Homo sapiens: one gene and its partners. The protein of the gene in region 2 interacts with the protein of the main gene of each other region in a pairwise test. Each region holds a gene or a part of one and is shown on either strand. Other genes may lie near its edges. The genes, in order: DRD2, SLC6A3 and RIT2.

Region 1 (7,105 bases), on a different chromosome or scaffold from region 2:
CTGCTTCTCCCAGCCTGCCCTAGAGGAAGGGGATCCTGACATGGGACAGAAGACAGGGCAAGGGACATAGGCAGACACAGGCAATGCCAGTGCATCCAAGGCCACCTTTTCCACAGAGCCTTCTCTGCCCTGGTGGGTAAGAGGGCAAAGGATGAGTCCTTCAGAGGAAGCAGGAGCTGCAACAGGGGAGGTGGAGCAGTGGGGGCAACCTGGCTTCCCTTGGGTTAGACCCTGCAGACACAGGGGTCTTGCTATACTTGAATGCCAAGCACAGAAGTGGCACTGCTGCCTTCTACCCAGGGGTCCTGGAAGGTGACTCGTCAAAGTTTTATTAGTTTGGTGCATGGATAGTGATGTTACAGAGTCTAGGCCCCAGGGGCTCTCCCAAGCTGCAGCTTCCCCTCCTTCCTCAGGGCAGGGCCAGGCCAGGCCAGATGGTTTTCAGCAGCCTCTTAGCCGTGGGCTCCTCTAAGGCAGAGGCAGTGGAAGGGAAGGGAAACAGGAGAGAGGAAAGGCCAGAAGGAATAGAAAAGGAAAGTGGTTTTGCGTCAGAGTGTGGCAGAGGCAGTCCCTCAAAGAACCTCTGATGTCCCCTAGCCCAGGCCCAGATAGAGTTCCAGGGCCTGACCTCCCTGCCAGGCCCCAGGCTGGCCAGCATGTGCTGTGAGAAGGGATACATTGCAGGGCCGTCAGAAGGCAGCAGGGTGGGCTAGGCCAAGGAGTTCCTCTCCCCATAGACCCTCCTGGGCCCTTCAAGATGAGGGCTCCTCTTCTCAGAGCATGTGGAAACCACTTGGGGAGCTGTAACGGGGTGAGGTGGGTCCGGACTAGCCTGGAAAGTAGAGGTCCACATCGGGGTGCGGGAGGGAGCTAAGGTTTTTGGCTTGGGAATCTCTGGGGTCCAACCTGCAGTCTGGTATTTACATGGGTCTCCCAGGACTGAAGTTGCCTGGCTCCTCGGCAAGAGAGCTTGCTTGCCTCCTGTGGGCCTTGCAGGGTGTGAACTGTCCATCTCTCCCCACCGCCTGCTCCACGCCAAGCCCCACAAAGAGAAAACTCAGCCTCTGGGCCCTGACTCAGGCTCCAGCAACCCTAGAGCCCCAGAGGAAGGTCAAGGAAGGCGGCTGCATCTTTGGTGCCAAGGATAGGGGGACTGGAGGTGGGAGGGGGGACTCTATGAGCTGCCCCTGAGCTGGGGGGCCCAGCCCCAGGGCTGGTACCATGCCCAGCTCACTAGCACTGCCCTGGCAGAGTGAGGGTGTGCGGGCAGTGAGGAGCATGGAGCCAAGCGAACACTGCAGGGCCTGCCGGGGTGAAGAGGAGGCCGATCCACCCAGGCCTTCCTGCTCACGGTTCGCAAGGGTGAGGCTGGCCGGCCTGGGCAGGGAGGTGGGAAGCAGGCTGCTGTGCGGGCAGGCAGCAGAGTCAGCAGTGGAGGATCTTCAGGAAGGCCTTGCGGAACTCAATGTTGAAGGTGGTGTAGATGATGGGGTTCACGGCGCTGTTGACATAGCCCAGCCACGTGAAGGCGCTGTACAGGACAGGCGGGATGTTGCAGTCACAGTGTATGTTCAGGATGTGTGTGATGAAGAAGGGCAGCCAGCAGATGATGAACACGCCTGGGGGAGAGGGCATGGTCAGGCTGGTCCCCAGAGCCGGGGAGGCACGGCTGGGAACACCCACACCCAGTGCGCCCTGGCTCGTATGCCAAGACGGTGGGCTGTAGCCACAGAAGCACTGTAGGAGGAGTCCAGGTCTTGGATCCTAGACCTGCCTCTGACACCCATTTGCAGTGAAGTATCCCTTCAGCTCCTTCAGCCTCACTTCCCTCATTTGTCCCTTTCCCACCTCCTAGAAAAGGGTACATGGTTTAACAATAAATCCAAAAGGTTACCATTCTGACCCAGGTTAGCCAGTAGAAATGGAAATATCTACTCTACTTCCAGGTCATCTTTGAGGGCTATAGACCCATGCCACTTAGTTCTTATAGCATCCTCATAAGGTACATAAGAAAAACACTCACAACAGCTCTGCAATATACCCAAGGTCATTCACTCTTGAGCAGCGAGGCTGAGAGCTGAACTCCGGTCTATCCAGGTCCCCAGATGATCTCGCTCTAGCCTTCCCCCAATTTCCCCAGTCTTGGTGGGTACACCCTTGCTAGTCCCTGCCTTGAACCATGCCCTCTCACCCAGGGCAGCCACCTACCTGCTCTGCTCACCTAACTCAGGTGCACTTTTTCCAGGACCTCCTGCACAGGTGTGATATTTATCCTGGAAGCAATGTGTACATGGAATGCCCTACAGGCACAGGAGGCATCCCTGGAGACTGAATGGTGTCTGGGAAGAGTAGGGCCACAGAGCTGAGCCCCTATGGACTGCAGCAGAGGGCCTGGCTCCAATCCTAGCCTACCATATCCCAGTCCCATGATCGTGAGTAGTCCCATGGGATCAAGTGCTCTCATTCATAAAAGAAGGGAGGTAACAGCTGCCCCACTCACGCCCCAGGATCATCCGGCAGTCAAAGGGGATTCAGGTGCTTCCTGGAAGACAGAGTCACAGGGGACCCTCCTTTTCCCAGCCACCCATATCAGTCCACCTTTTGGGTTTTGACCTTTACTATGTGGTTTTCTAGACTTCTATTGAAAAATCCTGCTTTATGGACAGGGATGCTTTTCATTTAGATTGGGGGCCACTCCCCAACATCTCATTTATTTTTCACAGCTCTGGTCCCATGGAGTCTTGTTTGAGTGCAAGTGAACTGAATTTCCCAATTCCTCAAAAAGAGCAATAGTAATAAAAACCATAATAGTGACACTTACATATGGATAGTGCTTTGTAGTTTAGAAAATGCTTTCACCAACTGATTGCCATGACAGCCCTGAGAAGTAACCTACTCTACAGATGAGGAGCCTAGAGAGAGAAAGTGACTTTCCTGGGCACATAGGCCCATGAGGTTCTGGTGCCAGCATAATAGACTAGTCAAATTTCCAGACTCTGGAGTCAGACTGCCTGAGTTCAAACCATGGGTCCTCTTGGTCAGGTTTTATAACCACTCTAAAACTCTGTTTGCCCATCTGTAAAGTGAGCACAATTACAGAATCTACCTAATAGGGCTGTCTGTATGTCAATGGGCTTGGCCTGTGCCTGAGGAAATGCTAGCCCCATGATCCTGCAGCCATGGTTAGGAAGGACATGGCAGGGAATGGGACCTTTCACAGACCGGGCTGTGGCCAGCAGCCAGGGCCGACTCACCGAGAACAATGGCGAGCATCTGAGTGGCTTTCTTCTCCTTCTGCTGGGAGAGCTTCCTACGGCTCATGGTCTTGAGGGAGGTCCGGGTTTTGCCATTGGGCATGGTCTGGATCTCAAAGATCTTGGCAATCTTGGGGTGGTCTTTGGCATGCCCATTCTTCTCTGGTTTGGCGGGGCTGTCGGGAGTGCTGTGGAGACCATGGTGGGACGGGTCGGGGAGAGTCAGCTGGTGGTGGCTGGGTGGGATGGGGCTGTACCGGGTCCTCTCGGGTGGGCTGGTGCTGGAGAGCATCTCCATCTCCAGCTCCTGGGCTCGCCGGGCAGCCTCCTGCACCAGAGGCAGAGGGCTCTGGGTAAAGCCGGACAAGTTCCCAGGCATCAGCCACCCATCTCACTGGCCCCTCCCTTTCCCCCTCTGAAGACTCCTGCAAACACCACAGGGTCACCCTGCCAGGGAGGCAAGGATGTCACTGAGGCATGGGACCCAGGACCCATGGCAGCCCCTGCAGGATTGCCCCTGTCCTTTTTCCCATGGCAATCCTCATGCAGCCTCAATACCCCACTTCTGTTCTGCCAGGGCTGAATACCAGGGACTTGTCTCTCATGGCCTGAGCAACACTTACTGTTAGCAAAGTGCCAGGTGCCACAGTGGCTGCTGGGGTCAAGAGCTGATGATGTTTGGCCCTGCCTCCAGAAACTCATGTTCCGACTGCAAAGAGGGTGCCCACCCCTGTTCTCCCTGTCAAACAAGGGGCCCAGTGCTCCCACTTCATGGGTACCTGCACCTGCGTACACACGTGGGCTCCATATTCTCCTGGATAGACTAATCTAGGTGCCAAAAGGCTGACCCCTGGGGCCCCACATCTTCCCTGCTGGGGTGACCTAGAGAGCCCTGGCATGGATCCACTCATGGCCTCCTGGGTTCTTCCATAGGTTCTCTTGTTTGAGGCCTTGGAGGTGTTAGTCTGAACTTCTAAAGTGCAGCCTCACTATGTGCCTAGGTGGCATGACTGGGCTGCTGCCTTGGCCCTGACTCTGAGGCTCTGTTTTGGCACCTGCCTCATAAACAGCTTCTTAGAGTCCTGCCCTTGCAGTGCAGGTGAAGGCAGGACACCAGACCTGGATTTTGTATGCGGCCCTCTGTGGGTTCTCTGGCCCTGTTCTCCATCCCTCTGGAGGATGGAATGCCTGCTGCTTGCATGTTGGTACAGCTACCACCTGGCAGAGGCTGGGGTCTGCTGTGCTTCCGCACCTGAGGGCTCTATGTACACAAACTGCTCCGCCACCAGTCCCCGCAGCTGCTCTGCTGCGTCCTACCCCAGAACCTGCCCATCCATAAGGCAGCTCATGTCAGTGGAAAGAACACAGGTGTGGATTTCAGAGTCACACAGGTCTGGGCTTAGTGTCACCAACTCTTGAGACGGGTGAGTTGCCTAATCTTTCTGAGCCTGTTTCCTCTTCTGTCAACTGAAGATCGGTTCGATCAAAGAGACTTACCTCCCGGGGTCGTGGTGAGGATTTGATGAGATAATAGGGATATGGTAGATGTTTGAGAAATGTGAATAGCCATTATTATCATTTTTATTACGTTGGTATGGCCAACCATTTTCTCGTACACATCCATGCCTTGCAGAACCGAGGTGTCTCACTTCATGCCTGCTTGGAGGTGTGCACGGTGAGTCTGCCTTCAGCTGAGGCAAGGTGGGGGTTTCTGGGGTGCTTCTCCCATTGGCCAGCTTCTGAGGTCTCAGAACCATGGCCAGTGGGCTTCCCTAGGGGCAGAAAGACCTGGCTCTGGGTCCCTGGCCTGAGCACTTACCACTCTCCGCCTGTTCACTGGGAAACTCCCATTAGACTTCATGATAACGGTGCAGAGTTTCATGTCCTCGGGGTGAGTACAGTTGCCCTGTGGAGTGAGCCAGCACATGGGTCACACAAAGTGGTGGGGATGGAGGGGGGACAGAAACCCAAAGTGCAGCAGTCCATGGAACTCAGACTGGGCAGAAGGGCTCAGAGATCAGGAGGGTGGGGGCCAGAGGAGGCAGTTGGGGCAAGGGGGAAGGCTGGAATGAGACAAAAAGTGGTGGGTATGACGAGGAACACAAGGACCTGGTTTTTTATGGAGCACCTGCTAAGGGCCTGGCACTGTGCTAGGCACACTCACGTCCCTTCTCACGTGGAATCCTCAAGACCACCCTGTGAGGCTGGTATTTTGATTCCCATTTAACAGATGAGGAAACAGGCTCATAGAAGGTAAGCAACTTGCCTAAGGTCACTCAGCAAAAAAAGTGTCAGTGACAGGATCTGAACCTGATGCGTCTAGCCCAAGAGCTCTTGTTCCTTCTGTGCCCACACACTGTCTTCCTTGTGAAGGACTGAGTGAAGGGGAGAATTCACAAGACATCAGGGGGGAAATGAAAGAGAAGCACAGGAGAGACATAGTGGAGAGGAAGTCAGGAAAAGTGATGTGTGTTTGGAGGGGAGGACAGAGAGTACGGAAGGTAAAGGAAAGAGGATGGAGGAGTCAGAGGGAGCTAAAGTGAGACAGAGAAACCAGAAAAGAGGAAGAGAGGAGCCCACGGGGGTACCAAGCAAGAGTTGCCGCCTTCAGTCACAAAGATCTCCAAGCAAAGACTTCCCCTTGTTATTTAGTGTCATGGACCCTGCCTCCCTCTCCTGGAGACTCAGATTGCTCCACTGAGGTCCATGCCTTCAAAATCTGCCCTTGCCCGGCTCCTGGGAATTCCTTTAGCCTAGACCTAACCCTTGCTGAGGTTTCCCAAGCCCCCACCTGAGCATAAGATGAGCCCTCTTGGTAATGGTTAGGTGGGGACCCTTGGAGTTGGTTGGGGGGTGTCTTGAGACCTTTAGTGGAGCCCTCAGGTGGGCCCTGAAAGCTCGGCTGCTGCGTTTGGTGTTGACTCGCTTGCGGCGTCTGCGGAGGACAATGTAGATCTTGATGTAGACCAGCAGGGTGACAATGAAGGGCACGTAGAAGGAGACGATGGAGGAGTAGACCACGAAGGCCGGGTTGGCAATGATGCACTCGTTCTGGTCTGGGGGAGGGAGAGCCCGGGCAGGCAGGGAGTCAGCGGGCCCACCGGCCATAATTCCACAAGAGCCCATTCATGTCCTTCCAGGAACAAGGAGCGATTTTACAGAGAATATGAACGCAACTAGATGTTTAAGGCTGCCTGGTCATCTTAGATATACACAAACGCACAGCAGATACCAGAGTATTAAAAACACGGTTGTGAGCAAAAAGTTAAGCTGTGATGATGGACTGCTCCCAAGTCTTTCCATTACTATTCCCTCATTACTTGGTCATTAGTTTTGCCATGTCTGGGCATAACAAGTGAAGCCGATGTATCCAGAAAGAATGACACAAGAAAACTTTTAAAAGAGTAAACCATCTTTTTAGTCTGACCTGTGTATTGGGAGAGGTTGGCCACCTTTTAATGTTTGCAGCAAGATAACTTGGCTCTGTCTGTTGAACTCACTTGTGTTCCTATGTGTTTCATATGTTTGCGTGCCCTTCTAGGTCTACCAGACGCCTGTCCTCTATCTCAGGGCCTTGTGCATTAATCCAAGTATGTTTAGTGTTATTCCCACTTAGAATTCCTGTGATGCTTATAATAGATACCGAACCACACATTTTCAAGGCTTCACTGTATCTTTTGTTGTTACGATCTCCAGAGGTGCACACCTGCCATCGCTCTTGCCTCCCTGATGAGAGGAAGTTCCACGCTGGCGGGGGCTTTGTGTTGCCTCTGTCTGAGACACTCCTGACTCTGCCTCCCACAGAAATGGGCATGTGGTCAGCTTACCTCCTATTCACTTCTAGCTTTCCT
Region 2 (7,785 bases):
ATGAAATCTACCAAGAAAAATCTTGTCATCAATATTTCAATTTTTTTGAAGCCTCCTGCTCTGTAGCCAGACCATTCGCCACTGCCTATGACTACATTTAGGGCCATCCTCTGGCCATCCCTCCTTGGCTAGATGATGAACCTGATGCATGGTTTGAATATGTGCCCACTGGGAAGCTTTCTTTCACTGGTCTTTCACAGAAGGCCATGATGACACAGCCTTTCACTTTCTGGTGGGGGCAGTGTGCTGTGTATAGACACATGTAATCCAGGCCCCAACGCATGCATTTTCTCCGTTCAATGTCATAAGAAACTCTCATGTAGCCAGAGGTCTGGGTTAAGGAAGCGGTCTCCATGCAGCAAGAGTGGGTGCTTGTTCATGGAACTTACCGCGCCTTCCAGACCTGCTCAAGCCTTGTGTCGTAAACATTCCACCTGAGGACGGCAGGATGCTGTCTACACAACCTCTGTGGGTCCGATAACAAATAGCTTCTGCTGGGCCGCTCAGCTTCTATGGTAACAGAGCTCCCTGAGTTTCTGCTATGGCTCAGGGCTGCTCTTACTCAAAAGGAGAGGACGTATTTTCAGGAGAGCGTTCAGCTCTTATTCAACTGTTATTTTCTGCGCTGCCTACAACATCTCCGTCTGCCACAGACCCTCCAATTCCCACTGGTTCTGCCAGATCAGTGTTCTCAAAGTGTGGTTCCTGGGCCAGCAGTGTCAGTGTCACCTGAGAACTTTCTAGAAACGCAGGTCCTCAGGTCCCACCTCAGACCTACTGAACCTGCGTCTCTAAGGATGGAGCGAGGTGATCTGTGCCTCCTATGCATGTAAAGGTTTATGTAGGTGACTGTGATGCCAGCTAAAGTCGGAGAACAACACCAGATTGTGTGGCCTCCTGGGGCAGCAGTTTGCCCATCCAGACCAGCAGCAGAATCTTTCTTACTCTGGGCCCTACTCAAAACCAAACGCTTTATGAAGAACACAAAACAGGCCAGAGAAGCATCCCCGAGTGTCTTGCACCTCACCTTGCAAACCGGAAGAGCCTCACCAGGTATGATACTTCTTTCTTAGTGGTAGTCTTGCTTGCCAGAGACAGCGTGTTTTCTTTCATTTTGGATATATATTTTGACCAATCAGACCAATGGACCCACAGAAAGTTCACCAAGGTGGCAGGTTTTGAAAATGTGTTATTTTCTCTTTCAATTTTTAGCAAGCACGTGTCTTACCAAGGCATCTTGGCATTTTTCATTTTTTGCTCCCCAGGTTGATTCAGCCTGATGTCATCAGTGTGGCAGACCACTGTGACATGCTGTGCAGTGGCAAGACCATCAAGATGTCTGTGACTAAAACCAGCAGTGAGCCGGAAAATGATACAGCTCTGAGAGAAGACATTGGAAGTGTACTGCTGTCCCTGCCATGCGAGAGGAAACTATCTTCCTCCTGAGGTGGCCCCCGGGGAGGGCACAGGGGTGCAGCAGTGAGCAGGGCCTCCTGCCTGGAGCCAGCGCCTTCCATCATTCTCAGAACCTGGACAGACAAGGTCTGGGATCTGACCTCCCACACCCCTGGACAAAAGCCACTCCTGCCTACTGGTCCCCTCACCCTTGCCCTCCCCAAGCCCCCTACCCCCAGGGCCTTCCCAGCACCAGTGAGAGGTCAGGGTCTTTAAAGTCTGAGCTGGGCTCCCTGGGACTTCCTCTGAAAGCACACAGGACACCCTCAATATAGTAAATACGCAGGCAGGTAAATGACTGTCATCTCACTGCCACTGTCCTTGTCCCCTCTCAGATACAGCACTCATGGGGGGAGCATCCACGCTGTCTTCCAAATCAGGCGAGACACGGCGCAACATCCAGCACTGAGGGCCTCCCAGGAGGCAGCACCCAAGGAGGGGGGGACCCGTGGGGCAAGGTTGCTTTGGAGACAGCAGTCAGTGGCCAGGGGCTCCTTGTGGGCTCTGCAGCTGCGGTCCCAGCCAGTGGGGAGAGGTGCCGAGCATGGGCAGGAAGTGCAGAGGCAGGGGGGCTCCACCTGCCTGCACCCAACGCCCTGAGCCCACAGCAGCCATAGCAGCAACCACAATGATAATAAAGCCGACTTGGCATTTAGGGCAAAGTTCCAAGCATGCAAAGGTCGGCCGTTTGATCAGGTCTGATCAGCTCATAACCACACTGCTTCTACCTGCACAGTTCACGGAGCATTCCTGTTGTGGGAGGATGGAGACCCATGGGTCTGGCAGCTGCGCTTTCTCTGTGTCATCCATGAGCCCAACTCCCGCAGTTAGTTTGTTCTTAGAGCACCCAAAGCTCCTTTATCCTAATTCATGTGGTTGGAAGTCGGGGTTGAGGCAGGGGTGGAGGAATGCTCTTTGTCTTGGCAGAGTGCAGGTTACATGCGTGTGATCACTCAGTGGCCCCTCCTGAGTGTGGCAGGTGCATTCTCTGTGTGCTACTGGTCAGTAAGGATGTGGCTGCCTGGATCTGTGTGACCTCTAGTCCCTGCACCTTCCTGCCTGTACCCTGTTAGCTTTGGGTCACAATTCTGCGCTCCTGCAGCGCTTGCAATCCCTTCCCAAACGCTGTTTGCCTGTGTGTTGTTTTGTTTCGAGACAGGGTCTCATCCTGTGGCCCATGGCGCAATCTCAGCTCACTACAACCTCCACCTCCCAGCTTCAAGCTATTCTCCCACCTCTGCCTCCCCAGTAGCTGGGACTACAGGTGTGGGCCACCATGCCTGGCTAATTTTTTTTTTCAAAGTCAGGGTTTTGCCATGTGGCCCAGGCTGGTCTCAAACTCCTGGCCTCAAGAGATCCTCCTTCCTCGGCCTCCCAGAGTGCTGGGATTACAAGCGTGAGCCCTCACTCCTGGCCTGTGTATTTTTAATATACCTGAACATCCATTCTCTCTGTGTGTTTTATTTAACAGCCTCCCTTAGTCACCTGCAAAGTCTTTTCCTTGGGAGACTGTTTCCTCAACCCTGCTGCTCTGGGGCCAAGCCCTGGCTCACTCCTTTTTATTGAAACCTGTGCCATGGAGATAATAGGGGTAGAGAGATCCCTTCTGTGGCAGCCACTGACACACTACAGCTTCGAGGTGGCACATCCCCCTCTCCTGAAGTCCCCTCACCTCCCTGGCGATGAAGTCCCACCCCTGATGGGAGGTGGTGTCAGGAGGCCTTCAGGTGGTCAGGCCAGGAGGGCTCCACCCTGAGGAATGGGACCAGTGCCCTCATAAAACAGACCCCGGAGAGCTCTCCCCAGCCCCTAGCGTGGGGAGATACAGGGAGAGAACTGTCTGCAACCCCGAAGCGGCCCTCACCAGACACAGAGTCGGCCAGGCCTTGGCCTCGGGACACCGGAACCGTTAGAACTGAAGGCTTCTGTGTGAGCCCCCAGGCTGTGGAGTTTTTTGTCATGGCAGCCCCAGGGGGTCACTAGGCTCCCACTTGATTCCAACTCAGCGTGAAGTCACAGCCCTGAGTGCCTTCTGCCTGGGTGCCAGCCCCGGAGCCGGGGAGCGGGGGAGCGGGGGGCGGGGAGGGGAGTGGTGGTGTGCGGGGAGTGCGGGGCGGGCGCAGGGGGTGGGGCACCGCGCTGCGGGCGGGTACTGCGGAGTCAGGCACCAAGGGTCCCTGCCTCCCTCACTGCTGAGCGCGGGCTGCAGGCTGGAATGGCTGGAGAGCCCCAGGGCTCGCCTGGACGCCCAGGGCAGGGTGCTCACGGGAGCATCGAGGGTACACGGGGAGGAACGCCGGGGTTCGGGCGACCCTAGGGGCGACGCACAGAGCTGGGCGCGGCCACTCACCTCGGTGCCTTCTAAGGACCTGGACATCCTGGGCCTTGGCGGCCTGGGGGCTCCATTCCTCCGCGCGCTGAATGGAAGAAATCCCGCCCGGGCATCTCGGAAGGAAAGCCTCGGAGTCCATTCGGCCCTGGAGCCGGATACCAACCGCCAGGGCTTTCCAGGCCCGTCCCGGGAAATGGTTTTCTTAGGCGAGTGCGAGGCGGGCCCCTCGGTTCCGATGCAGGCGCACTAGATGCCGGCAAGGCGGGGACTAGGCCTAGGGGACCTCGGTCGCCTCGAGGTCGCGGAGACCCCAAGGCCACGGAAGGACCCGCGTCTCCGCAGCCCGCACGCCGGGAAGCGTGCAGAGTCCTCGGCGGGGTCCCGAGCCCGCTGGTCAGAGCGTGGAGCGGCGGGGTGGGAGGGACGTGGTCCCCAGAGCGCGGGGCCACCGTAGGGGCCCCTGATGGGGAGGGAGGGAAGGGTCGGCCCGACGGGGTCCCAGCAGTTCCCCGCGCGCAGCCGCTCGGCTCCCTCCCCGTCCAGCTGGGAGCCGCCAGCCCTGGGCGTCCGAAGATAGCGGGTGCCCGGGGCAGCCCCCAGGGGTGCGGGCGAGGGCGCAGGGCGGCCCAGACAGTTCCCGCGTGGAAGGCGCCCGTCTAGATCCGCGACGTCTCGGACCCCCAGGCCCCCGCACCCCGTGTCCGAGGCTCCGGGACGCGCAGGACAGTGGAGCCGTGGCCGCCGCTTGCTCCCAGCCATCTGCGTCCGGGAGGCGGGGGCGGGGGCGCGGCCCGGGGAGGTGAGGAGGAGGAGCCAGGACGCGAGGGCGACCCCGTCGGCGGGAGGGCGGGGCGGGGCGGACCCTGTCTACTGGATAAGAGCCCGAGGCCGAGGCTGAGACCGCCCAGCGCTGCGGAGCGGGAGGGGAGGCTTCGCGGAACGCTCTCGGCGCCAGGACTCGCGTGCAAAGCCCAGGCCCGGGCGGCCAGGTGAGGCCAGCGTCGCTCGCGGCATCGGGGCGCCCCGCTCCTTCCGCAGACCCCGAAGTGGGGCGCAGGGGCGGGGGCCGGGGACCGGGCACAGTCTGGGGTCCCCGCGTCCCGCAGACCGCGCCGTCTCCAAAGTCGCCAACAGTCGCGGGTGCCGAGCGCCCCCCGATAGCGCCACATGGGACCCTGAGGCCGTCCGAGGCGCGAGGAGGGTGCAGGGCTGCCCCTGGCCCCGCTCCAGGCTCAGAACCGGGTGGGCACCTGGTGCAGTCACCGGCTTAGGGGACGCGTGGGTGTCTATGGCTGTGACTCGGGGGTCCTGGTTTCTTCTCGTGGAACTTAACCCTACTAGGGGTGCGGCGCATCCCAGATCCGATCGGAGTGGGTTTTGTACACCGCCGCTCCATCTCGCGGGGGCTTTGTCTGTGTTGGGGGTGGTGGCGGGCGCGGGCTGCGCGCTGGTGCTCTGGGCAGGGCGGGGAGGCCGGGCGAGGACTCGCCAGGCAGCGCCGCTTCTTGTTCTGGGCGCGGTGAGGAAGGACGCTTTCTAACGGGCCACATTTTGCTGTGTAGACCCAAAACTCGCCTCTGAGGCCCCGCGTTCAGGAGCGGGGTCAGGTGGCCCCAGGGCGGCGGCGGCTTGCCGGAGACTCGCGAGCTCCGCACCCGACGCCCTCTCCCAACGCGGCCTCCTGCTCGCGCCGCGGAACCCCTTCGTCGGGTGTTTTACCCACCGGAGGGGTCGTGCCGGTTGAGGTTGTCACCGGGTGCGTGGCATAGCTCGTGATAGCTCATGGGTGAGGTTTTGTGCAAACTTGGATGCAGGGAAAGTTGCCTGTTAGAGCCTCCACCTGCGACCTGCTTCAGTCGTTGTGTGTGTGTGCGCACCTGTGTGAGTGTGAGTGTGTATGTGTGTAAGTGTATGTGCTCGCCTGTGTGTGTGTGAGTGTGTATGTGTGTTTGTGAGTCTGTGTGTGTCTGTGTGTCTGTGTGTGCGTGCGCTCGACTGAAACACGCTGCTGCTGGATCCAAATGACAGAAGTCGCCCTGGCTGGGGCGGTGTAGACGCTCCTGCTCTCCTGCTCAGCGTTGCAGGGGGGTTTATGTAGCCGTTTGGACAGGATTTCCCGGGTTACCCTGCTGGCCCAGGAGCTAGTTCCCGCGATGAAGCCCTGTCCATCCTCCGCCCAGCTCTCTCACGCGGGGTGGTGCCACCTGCCCTAGGTGGATGTGGCTTGTACAGACACTTTTTGAGGAAGCAGTTGTGATGGTTATGTCTAAACTCTCTTTACAGTGGCTGATTTTGCTTATATAAATTTTGCTCTTTATTACTGAGTATAAACAATACAAGCCCAGGCTTGGTGGCTCATGCCTGTCATCTCAGCACTTTGGGAGGCTGAGGCAGGAGGATCGCTTGAGACCAGGAGTTCAAAACCAGCCTTGGCAACAATAGTCAGACCCTGTCTCTACAAAAAAACAACAACAACAACAAAAAAACACACACAAAAATAACTTAGCCGGTGCTGTGGTGCACACCTGTAGTCTCAGCTGCTCAGGAGGCTGAGGTGCAAGGATCACTTGAACCTAGGAGGTTGAGGCAGTGAGTTGTAATCACAACTGTATTCCATCCTGGGTGACAGAGCGAGACCTCATGTTAAAAAAGAAAAAAAAAAGAAAAAAGAATACAGATGAACAGTCATGAAGACATTATTGAATGCTCTTAGAAGATTGTAAAATTGCTCTCTGGAAGTGTGGGGGAAGGTGGAAGTGATATCCATGCATTGTTAGTAGAAAGCCACGCTAGAGCTCACACAGCCTTGCACTTTGATAGGAGTGGGGAGGGGTGCAGGGGAAGGAGGAGCAAACCAGAGTGTCTGTCTTGAGGCCTCCATGGGCCAGTGCCCCAGCCCTGTGGTGAGGGCTGGCACTTCCCAGCTCCCGTGCCCCAGCTGTACCATCTCAGGCGCTGAGAACGCACCCATCCCTTCCCAGAGGAATGCCCGTGAATGCCTCGGGGCTCTGCCCTCCGCACCAGGTATGTCCCTAGCCCTGGCTGCTGAATTGTTGCGTTCCTGTTGTGTGTTTATTTTTCATATTGGCTGAAGACCAAGAGGGAAGAAGCACAGAATTCCTCAACTCCCAGTGTGCCCATGAGTAAGAGCAAATGCTCCGTGGGACTCATGTCTTCCGTGGTGGCCCCGGCTAAGGAGCCCAATGCCGTGGGCCCGAAGGAGGTGGAGCTCATCCTTGTCAAGGAGCAGAACGGAGTGCAGCTCACCAGCTCCACCCTCACCAACCCGCGGCAGAGCCCCGTGGAGGCCCAGGATCGGGAGACCTGGGGCAAGAAGATCGACTTTCTCCTGTCCGTCATTGGCTTTGCTGTGGACCTGGCCAACGTCTGGCGGTTCCCCTACCTGTGCTACAAAAATGGTGGCGGTAAGTCCCATCTCAGCCTCCCTGAGCATGCTGGCCGGGCGGGGGTCGTAGGGGCAGCCGGGGCCAAGGCACGTACGGAAACGAGATGAAGCTGTTCCCATGCGTGAAGACGGAGCTCCCTGTGAGAGCTCACGGCCGGTGCAGATCCTCCCAGAGGATGTCACAAAACCATTGAGCAGGACTCGGAGCTGCCTTGTCCCACGCCTGCATTTCAGAGTTTAGGAAAGGGAGGCCCGCGAAGAAGCTGGGGGGTGGGGGGCGGCAGACGGGGCAGCTTGGCTCTGCCTCCTGTTTCCAGAGGCTATCTTCGCTTTGGAAAGAAAATTCTCAAAGGTCCAAAGAACAGCCTGCGGCTGACTTTGGCAGCCTTTGCAAAGCATGTGGAGGCCCTGGAGCCTGGAGTGGCAGAGGAGGCCCCTGGAAAGTGACTGTGTCCCCTGCACCCTCCAGAACCCAGCCACAGAGCCAGAAAGCGAAGATCGAGGCAGGGCCACCGGGGACGTCCAAGAACATTGGTGATCCCTTCCCAGGAGCCTCTTTGGGCCTCCCAGCCTCCCTGCCTGGCCTCCCTCA
Region 3 (7,105 bases), on a different chromosome or scaffold from region 2:
GCGAGGTGGGGAAGGCTTCATCATCTGCTACTCCGTCACTGACCGTCAATCATTTCAGGAGGCTGCCAAGTTTAAAGAGCTCATTTTTCAGGTCCGCCACACCTATGAAATTCCCCTGGTGCTGGTGGGTAACAAAATTGATCTGGAACAGTTCCGCCAGGTGAGTGCCGATTTTATCTGGTAGCTTCTGTCTTTTGCTCTGAGGATGCATAGTACAAAATATGGCTGCTTTCCCAGGTTCACACTGAAAATTATGAGAAAGAAATTATGCACATGATTTTTCTAATAAGTCATGGTGGTCCCATGGTAAATTGTGTTGGCCTCCATAATATATTTTACCACATATGCTATTTTGCAGAGTGCCCTTACTAGTGCCCTATCCCCTAGGATCTGGGATTGTATACTGAATACAGTAGAAATGATTCTTGTTGACTTCTGAAGTGTAGCCTTAAGATTTCTGCAGTTTCTGCCATTGCCGCTTGAACTGCTTACCCTTGAGTTCAAGTAAAGAAGCCCAAGCTAACCATGAGAAGATAGTCATGTGGACAAAATGAGATTCAGGCTCACAGCTGTCCCTGCCAAGATACTACACATGTGGGCAAAGCCACTTTGCATGTTTCAGCACCAGCCACCATGTAACTGTAACCTCATAACATAGCCAGCCAATCCACATAGAACACGAAAATCTCCCAGGTAAGCCTTGTCTGGATTTCTGACCTAGAGAATCAGTGGCAAATAAAATGAAATTGTTTACGCTACCATGTTTTGGGGGTAATTTTTCATGCAGCAATAGATGATCAAAACAGAATCTTTCCCTCCTTCCAGAATTAGAACAAGCCACTACTTCTCAGGTTGCATCAGAAATTACTCTTATATACCATCCATTTCCTTCAGGCTGCATCTGCTGTATCAATGTGATCAATAGAGAGTCTCAAAACTTCTCCGAACAAACAAAATTGATAAGGAAGAAACTGTGGCTAGCTTAGACTGGGATCCATTACCGTAACTTACATAGTTCATTCATTATATTTTCTTCTCTTCTGGTCAGACACTACTTCTTGGGCAATAACAGATGGCCGAACTATGATGGCTTCCTCCCTGAGATCTCAAGATAGTAATGATAAATCAGTTGCCCTGGTTCAAGAATCAGGCAAATCATATCACAATTCCATTCCCATGACTCACATTGTACAAAGTAACATTACTGAGAAGTGTCATGCAAATCAAATTTTTGTAAATCTAATTTTCTAAATTGAGTTGCTTTGTTATAAATTGAGATGCTTCATCTTTCTTTTCGTTGACCTTAAATTTGAACTGGCTTTTAATAGTTCATGTTATTCCAGCTAATGATTTATTGTTAGCCTATTTAAATTAGTCAACTAGTAAAACCTTTTACTAACGTAGGAATCTTCACTAAAACAAATAGTTGTCTCCTATCTTAAGGGTATTATAAATATGAATTTTCATGCTTAATATGCTTTAAGTTTTCTTAAATTGAAAAGATCTCATACAGAGTCCATGTTTACAAGTTGATGTTTAACCGGGAACGTATTTCTATGATTTAGTGCAATGCATTTTTGTGGTGATATTTTTGTATATTTTACTTGAGAATCTAAGCATCTTAAAATGGCAGCTAATTATTGTTTTAGGAACTGTAATATTTGTTCATCTCTTCTGCAACTGTTCTGCTGTCTTACTTTGCTGTTTCTCTTTCTCCAAAGACATGTTCAGCATGATATGTTGCATTTCTATGGGTTAAGAATTCAAGTTTATCTCATCAGTTAAATATAATCTATTTTAGATAACTTGGCAGAAAGGAAGAAAGTTGGAGGCTTAGTAGCTGAACCTTTCCTATACTCCTCTGAAGAGTGCTAGTGCTTTACTTTTCTTAGGGCCTCTAGGAACTAGTGTGACAAAGCACCCTAAATGTGCCACCAAGTGATCATATGCCCATTTTTGTTGCACTTCTAAGAATTCCTGGAGAACAAAAACCTCTGACAGGGTTTCAGTTAGGAAAGCTATAAGTGACTCTGAAAAACTAGTGAATTTGAAAACATTCAGGAAACATTTTTTCAGGCCAAAAATCAACTAAACTTTCTCTACAATGATTGCTCTTCATGACTCCAAAGCTGGCTGACATTTACTTTTCCTTCACTCTCCAGGCCCTGTCTTACCAGGCTCAAAGGTGATACTTAGGATCTCACAAAGGCATGTTTATCAGAACCCCTATCCCAGCCTGGTTAATTAGCTGCTCCTTTCAGATTAGCAGTGAAGTGAATTGCAAGCATTACAAATGTCACTGAAATTAAAACCCAGGCAAAGATACTAAGTTGAGTAACTTTGCAGATTTGATAGTCTTTTCCTTGTAGATAAAAGCAAGTACTGTAAACAAGATAGTCACAGAAAGTGCGAAAACCATGAAAACACAAATTGCAATCTTTGCAAAAATGTTTGTGTACCACTGTCTCCAGTAATGAAGTGTTGATGTAAAAATTTGGCTTCTGGCTGTGGTTGTGATAGCAATAATTATTCTTAAAACTGCAGAGTGGTTTTTTCTGAGCAAAATGATTTCAATTCACACTTTTATCTTGTAACCACTCTGTGTATTTGTAAGCCAAGCATTTGAAGAATGAGGACATCTGACAAATGAATATATTGATAGCAATTGACTTTACTAAACTATTGCAGCTAGTGACAAAATTAAGACTAAAACACTGTCATATTGTACTCTTTTTGTTCATCAGTATCTGAAAGGTTAGGTTTCTGTTTCTTCATATAAAAAAAAAAAAGCAGACTCAAAAGAAAAATAAAGATGCTGACACCTGGATGGTTTGCAGCTCAAAAGAATTCTCTGAGAATTCCTAGAGTGATAAAGTTAAACTCTCAACGGTGAAATTACACTGGTGCTATTGTTTAGTGGTGAGAGGCAAAGGAGTAGGATTCTCACTAAGCAATTCTTATTCCTTATCAGCCTACACTGAAAGAGTTTGGAAGGGAAGAATTCTGATGGTTGAAGCTGCTTCTTTTCATATTTGGTAAGAATAGGTGCCTGTATTCTTAATGCATTTTGGGAAATCCCAGGGCCCTTTCTAAAAAAGATAAAAAGAAAAAAAACAAAAAGACAACGAGTTTTAGTGTATTATGTGTTTATCATTATTCACCTCCTTGAGCTTTAATGTGGAAGGATTCAAAGGATAGTATTTAATCTGTGAAAAATATTCATTTTGATGGTGATATTACTGATGATACATTTAGTGTTTTCAAGGCTCTGTGCTGGGCACGTTACACACAAGATTTTATTTAATCCTCACCGCAAGACCAAGAAGTAGTCTCCTTTATACCTATTTACATATGAGTCAACTGAATCTCTGATACATTCAATAACTTGTTCAAGGTCACACAGCTAGTTAGAGTTGAGAGACAAAACCCAGTGTATTCTGACTTAAAATCTCACTGTGTCTTATGGTTGGCCTACAAACCATTGTCATTTTATCATGAACTTATTTTTTTATATCAGCTTCAAGATACTAGCATGCTTCTTAGAGCAGTAGCATCTTATGGACAAGGAGGAGCAGGAAGAATCAGGATAATAATTCTTTGGGTTTGGAGTGGGCAGTTCCAGGCCATGGATAAGCCAGTAGTAGCCCAAAGTTGGTTTCCTTACCCTTTTGGTGGGAGGAAAAATAAAAGTAAGGAAATGGGTTTCAAAATTACTGGAAAGTTGTGTTTTATAACAGCCAAAAAATTCTGTCCAAAGTTTATCCAGACTATTCTAAAGTCTGTCTTAATTCCTGAACAACATTAGGTCCTTGAGCTCCCAAGGTCTTTGTCCCTATTCATGCAGGCTTCTGTCTTCCCACTGGAGAATAGAAGGAGATAGGCCCGGATTTCTCTTTTTCCAAAACCCTGACCGGCTGTGCAAAGTAGAAGCAGTCTATGAGTGAAGGAAGTTTCAGGGATTTGGGAGCTAGGTTAGAACGTTTTATGTCAATTGCAGACCACAAACTTTTTTTTTTTTGAGATGGAGTCTCGCTCTGTCACCCAGGCTGGAGTGCAGTGGTACAATCTCCACTCACTGCAACTTCCACCTCCCAGCTTCAAGTGATTCTCCTGCTTCAGCCTCCCACGTAGCTGGGATTACAGGTGCCCACCATCATGCCCAGCTAATTTTTGTATTTTTAGTAAAGACGTGGTTTCACTATGTTGGCCAGGCTGGTCTTGATCTCCTGACCTCAGGTGATCCTCCAGCCTCGGCTGCCCAAAGTGCTGGGATTACAGGCATAAGCTACTGCGCCCGGCCAAACTGTTTTATCCTGAAGATATCCTGAAGATAGACAAACCTTTCGGTACCAACAGTGTAATTGCAGCTTAATTCTCAGCTTTAGGCCTTGAAACTCTGCTTCCCACAGTCTGTGTAACTCTTGAAGTACTGAGTTGAAATCATGAAAGGCCTTTATTTATTCTTTAGTGATATATCTAATTAAAATAGTTTCATTTCTTTACTTAGAGGGGTATTTGGAACCATGAGAATTAGGAATTACTGGATTAAAAAAGCATAATATCTATTTAGAGTTCTATCAAGCATCTATTTATCTTTGGAGAGTCGTGATGGTTTTGGAATATAGTAAAGGCATGAGTAATCCAGTCCCTGTCCTCAAGAACTTTCTGTTCTTCTCAGGATCTGTGCATATGATGTAGGGAGAAAGCCCCCCTTAAATAATACAATTACATGTTGAACAATATAGCACAATTCATAGGTGCAATGCTTTTTGAAAACCAGGAGAGACCCATGTGGGTAGCACATTTGAAGAACGAAGATACTGAATGAATGGATGAATATCTTGACCAAGTAAGAAAGATAAGGTGAATGGTGACGGTTATTTTAGGAAGGACTGAAAAGGATCAATCTAGAGAGGAAGAAAGAAACCTTGGGTCTTAGGAGTGTACACAAGCAGTAGAGTGATCACTGGGAAACTTGGAAGATAAATCTGCCTAGTACACACATATCAAGCGTCCTAAGCATAATTTCATAGTGTCTCCCTTGTAGACACATTTAATCAAAGACAAAACATAAATATGTAGCAGAGCATATTGGATATAATGTAATGCAGTAATTAATTGCAAATACCACTCAAACTTAAAAAAATAAGAGTAGTGCTTAATTATCTTTCATCATCAGTGCATTGGAAAATTTATATAAACATATTTTCCAAATGATGAGGGCTTATTTTTTGAAGAGAAAAAAAGGTTCGGTAATTTACTCATTATTTTGGGATAGATAGCCAAATTCAATTAACAATTAATTAGCTTTATTTATCTTTTCCATAGCATTTTGTAATATGTTATTTAATTAAATTAAATAAATGTGAATGTATTAACTCCAATTGAGACAGAAAACAAAACAAAACAAAGCTTAAGAGTTTCACATGATTTATCCAAACTGGATGGTTGTAGAACTGGAATTTGAGTTACCTTAGCTTACACATATATGTTTTCGCTACTGTCATTTTTTAAATTTAATTCATTTTCCCAATGGGTAACAAGCACTCTTTCAGAATCTGGGAATACACAAATGAACTTGACAGCTAATATCTCTATGTGCAATAATGTGAAGTTACAGTGGAGGAGACAGACAATGAACAATTTGAGTATGGGTATGTGTATTCTAACTGCACAATGCAAAAATGGTACTAGGAATAAAATTATACACATTCAAATATGCATGCATACATACACACATGTGTACACAGTTCTGAGCAGTGAAAAGGGCAAAGGAGAAAAATGAAGCAAGGGAAGGGGTTGGCATGTGGAGTGTAAGAATCAGAGCTGTATTTTCTCTAGGGTGGTCAAGATGGTCTCTCTAAAAAGATGGCATTGAGCACAACTCCGGAGTGTGGGGAGGATTTGGGTGAAGAGCATTCCAGACAGAACAAATAGCACTTGCAAAATCTTCACAATTGGATTTAGCTTAGCATGTTTGAGAGCCATAATAGCTGGTGAGGAGGCAGGGTCAGGTTATGTAGAGCTAAAAAGTTCTTTGGTAAGAGTTTGGATTTTATTTAAGTTTGAACAACAATTGTTTAAAACATTTGAGCAGAATTGTGGTATGAATACATTTCTATTTAGTCAGTCTTGTCGTTGGTTGGAGCAACCATGAAGCAGCGAGATGCATTTGGAGGCTCTTTCAGTCATCAGAATGAGAAATGATGGTAGCTTGAGTGAAAGGGATAGTGCTTGCTGACTGTTCACGAATTCCATACTCATACTGCACACTGACAGGATGGCAAGTGACAAGATTACAGTGAGGTTTAGAGCCCTTTCATGTAACAACAAATTCTTCTACATTCCTCAGTGATACCTGAGGTCATTACTGCATTATCACACAATCCAGTGGGTGTCCATGATGGAGTCCTCATGACATTTTTAAGAAATGTAAGCAGCATACAGAAACTAACAGATGATGTAGTTGAAAGAATCAGATAGTCCTGGGTTTGAATTGTTACTCAGATGATTACTGTGTCCTTGGACAAATCAGTGACAGACACTGATTTGTACCTGTTGTTCAGAGAAGTACTTCCTGTCCAGCACAGAAGTAGGAAGATATAATTCATAGATAGCTTCCGGCCATCAAGTGCTTAAAGGGTCAGCCTCAGCTACATAGAGCCTCCTTGCCTGATGTCACACCCTTTCTGGGGAAACTCATTTCCAGTTAAGTGTAGGCATACATTTCCAGCCATTTCAGTCCAATGTGAGATACTGACAGGCAAATCTTGCTAGGGAGCCCCCACTAGTTTGGTAAAGACTCTGTTGGGTTTGCATTAACGTTCAACTTCTCCCTCTGCTCAACCCTGCTTCCTTCTCCTTCCTTTCAGAAATGTTGATTCCTAATAAACATCTTGCGCTTCAGACTCTGTCTCAGTGTCTACGTCTGTAAAATAGGATGATAATATCTCTGTCATTGTTTTTTGGGTGGGACAGATGAGATAATGTCAGTAGGTTATCTAGCACAGTGTATGTCACAGAGTAGCGCCTCAATAAATACTGGGTGCTACTATCCCTATCCCTCATCTGGATTATTGTAATAGTCTTTGGGTTATTATTCTTC

Evidence for each region.
Region 1: the proteins of SLC6A3 (region 2) and DRD2 interact in binary tests that used the Homo sapiens proteins (3 or more experiments, as listed by UniProt).
Region 3: the proteins of SLC6A3 (region 2) and RIT2 interact in binary tests that used the Homo sapiens proteins (3 or more experiments, as listed by UniProt).

What each region holds. Positions count from the first base shown.
Region 1 is NC_000011.10:113,409,302-113,416,406, forward strand, and holds the end of DRD2 (D(2) dopamine receptor), read right to left. Parts: intron 6,311-7,105; coding exon 6,120-6,310; intron 5,161-6,119; coding exon 5,074-5,160; intron 3,583-5,073; coding exon 3,255-3,582; intron 1,620-3,254; coding exon 1,426-1,619; 3' UTR 304-1,425; downstream 1-303. UniProt on the Homo sapiens protein: Dopamine receptor whose activity is mediated by G proteins which inhibit adenylyl cyclase. Positively regulates postnatal regression of retinal hyaloid vessels via suppression of VEGFR2/KDR activity, downstream of OPN5.
Region 2 is NC_000005.10:1,442,339-1,450,123, reverse strand, and holds the start of SLC6A3 (sodium-dependent dopamine transporter), read left to right. Parts: upstream 1-4,683; 5' UTR 4,684-4,776; intron 4,777-6,881; 5' UTR 6,882-6,926; coding exon 6,927-7,212; intron 7,213-7,785. UniProt on the Homo sapiens protein: Mediates sodium- and chloride-dependent transport of dopamine. Also mediates sodium- and chloride-dependent transport of norepinephrine (also known as noradrenaline). Regulator of light-dependent retinal hyaloid vessel regression, downstream of OPN5 signaling.
Region 3 is NC_000018.10:42,916,627-42,923,731, reverse strand, and holds part of RIT2 (GTP-binding protein Rit2), read left to right. Parts: coding exon 1-160; intron 161-2,971; coding exon of another isoform or gene 2,972-3,007; exon of another isoform or gene 3,008-3,035; intron 3,036-7,105.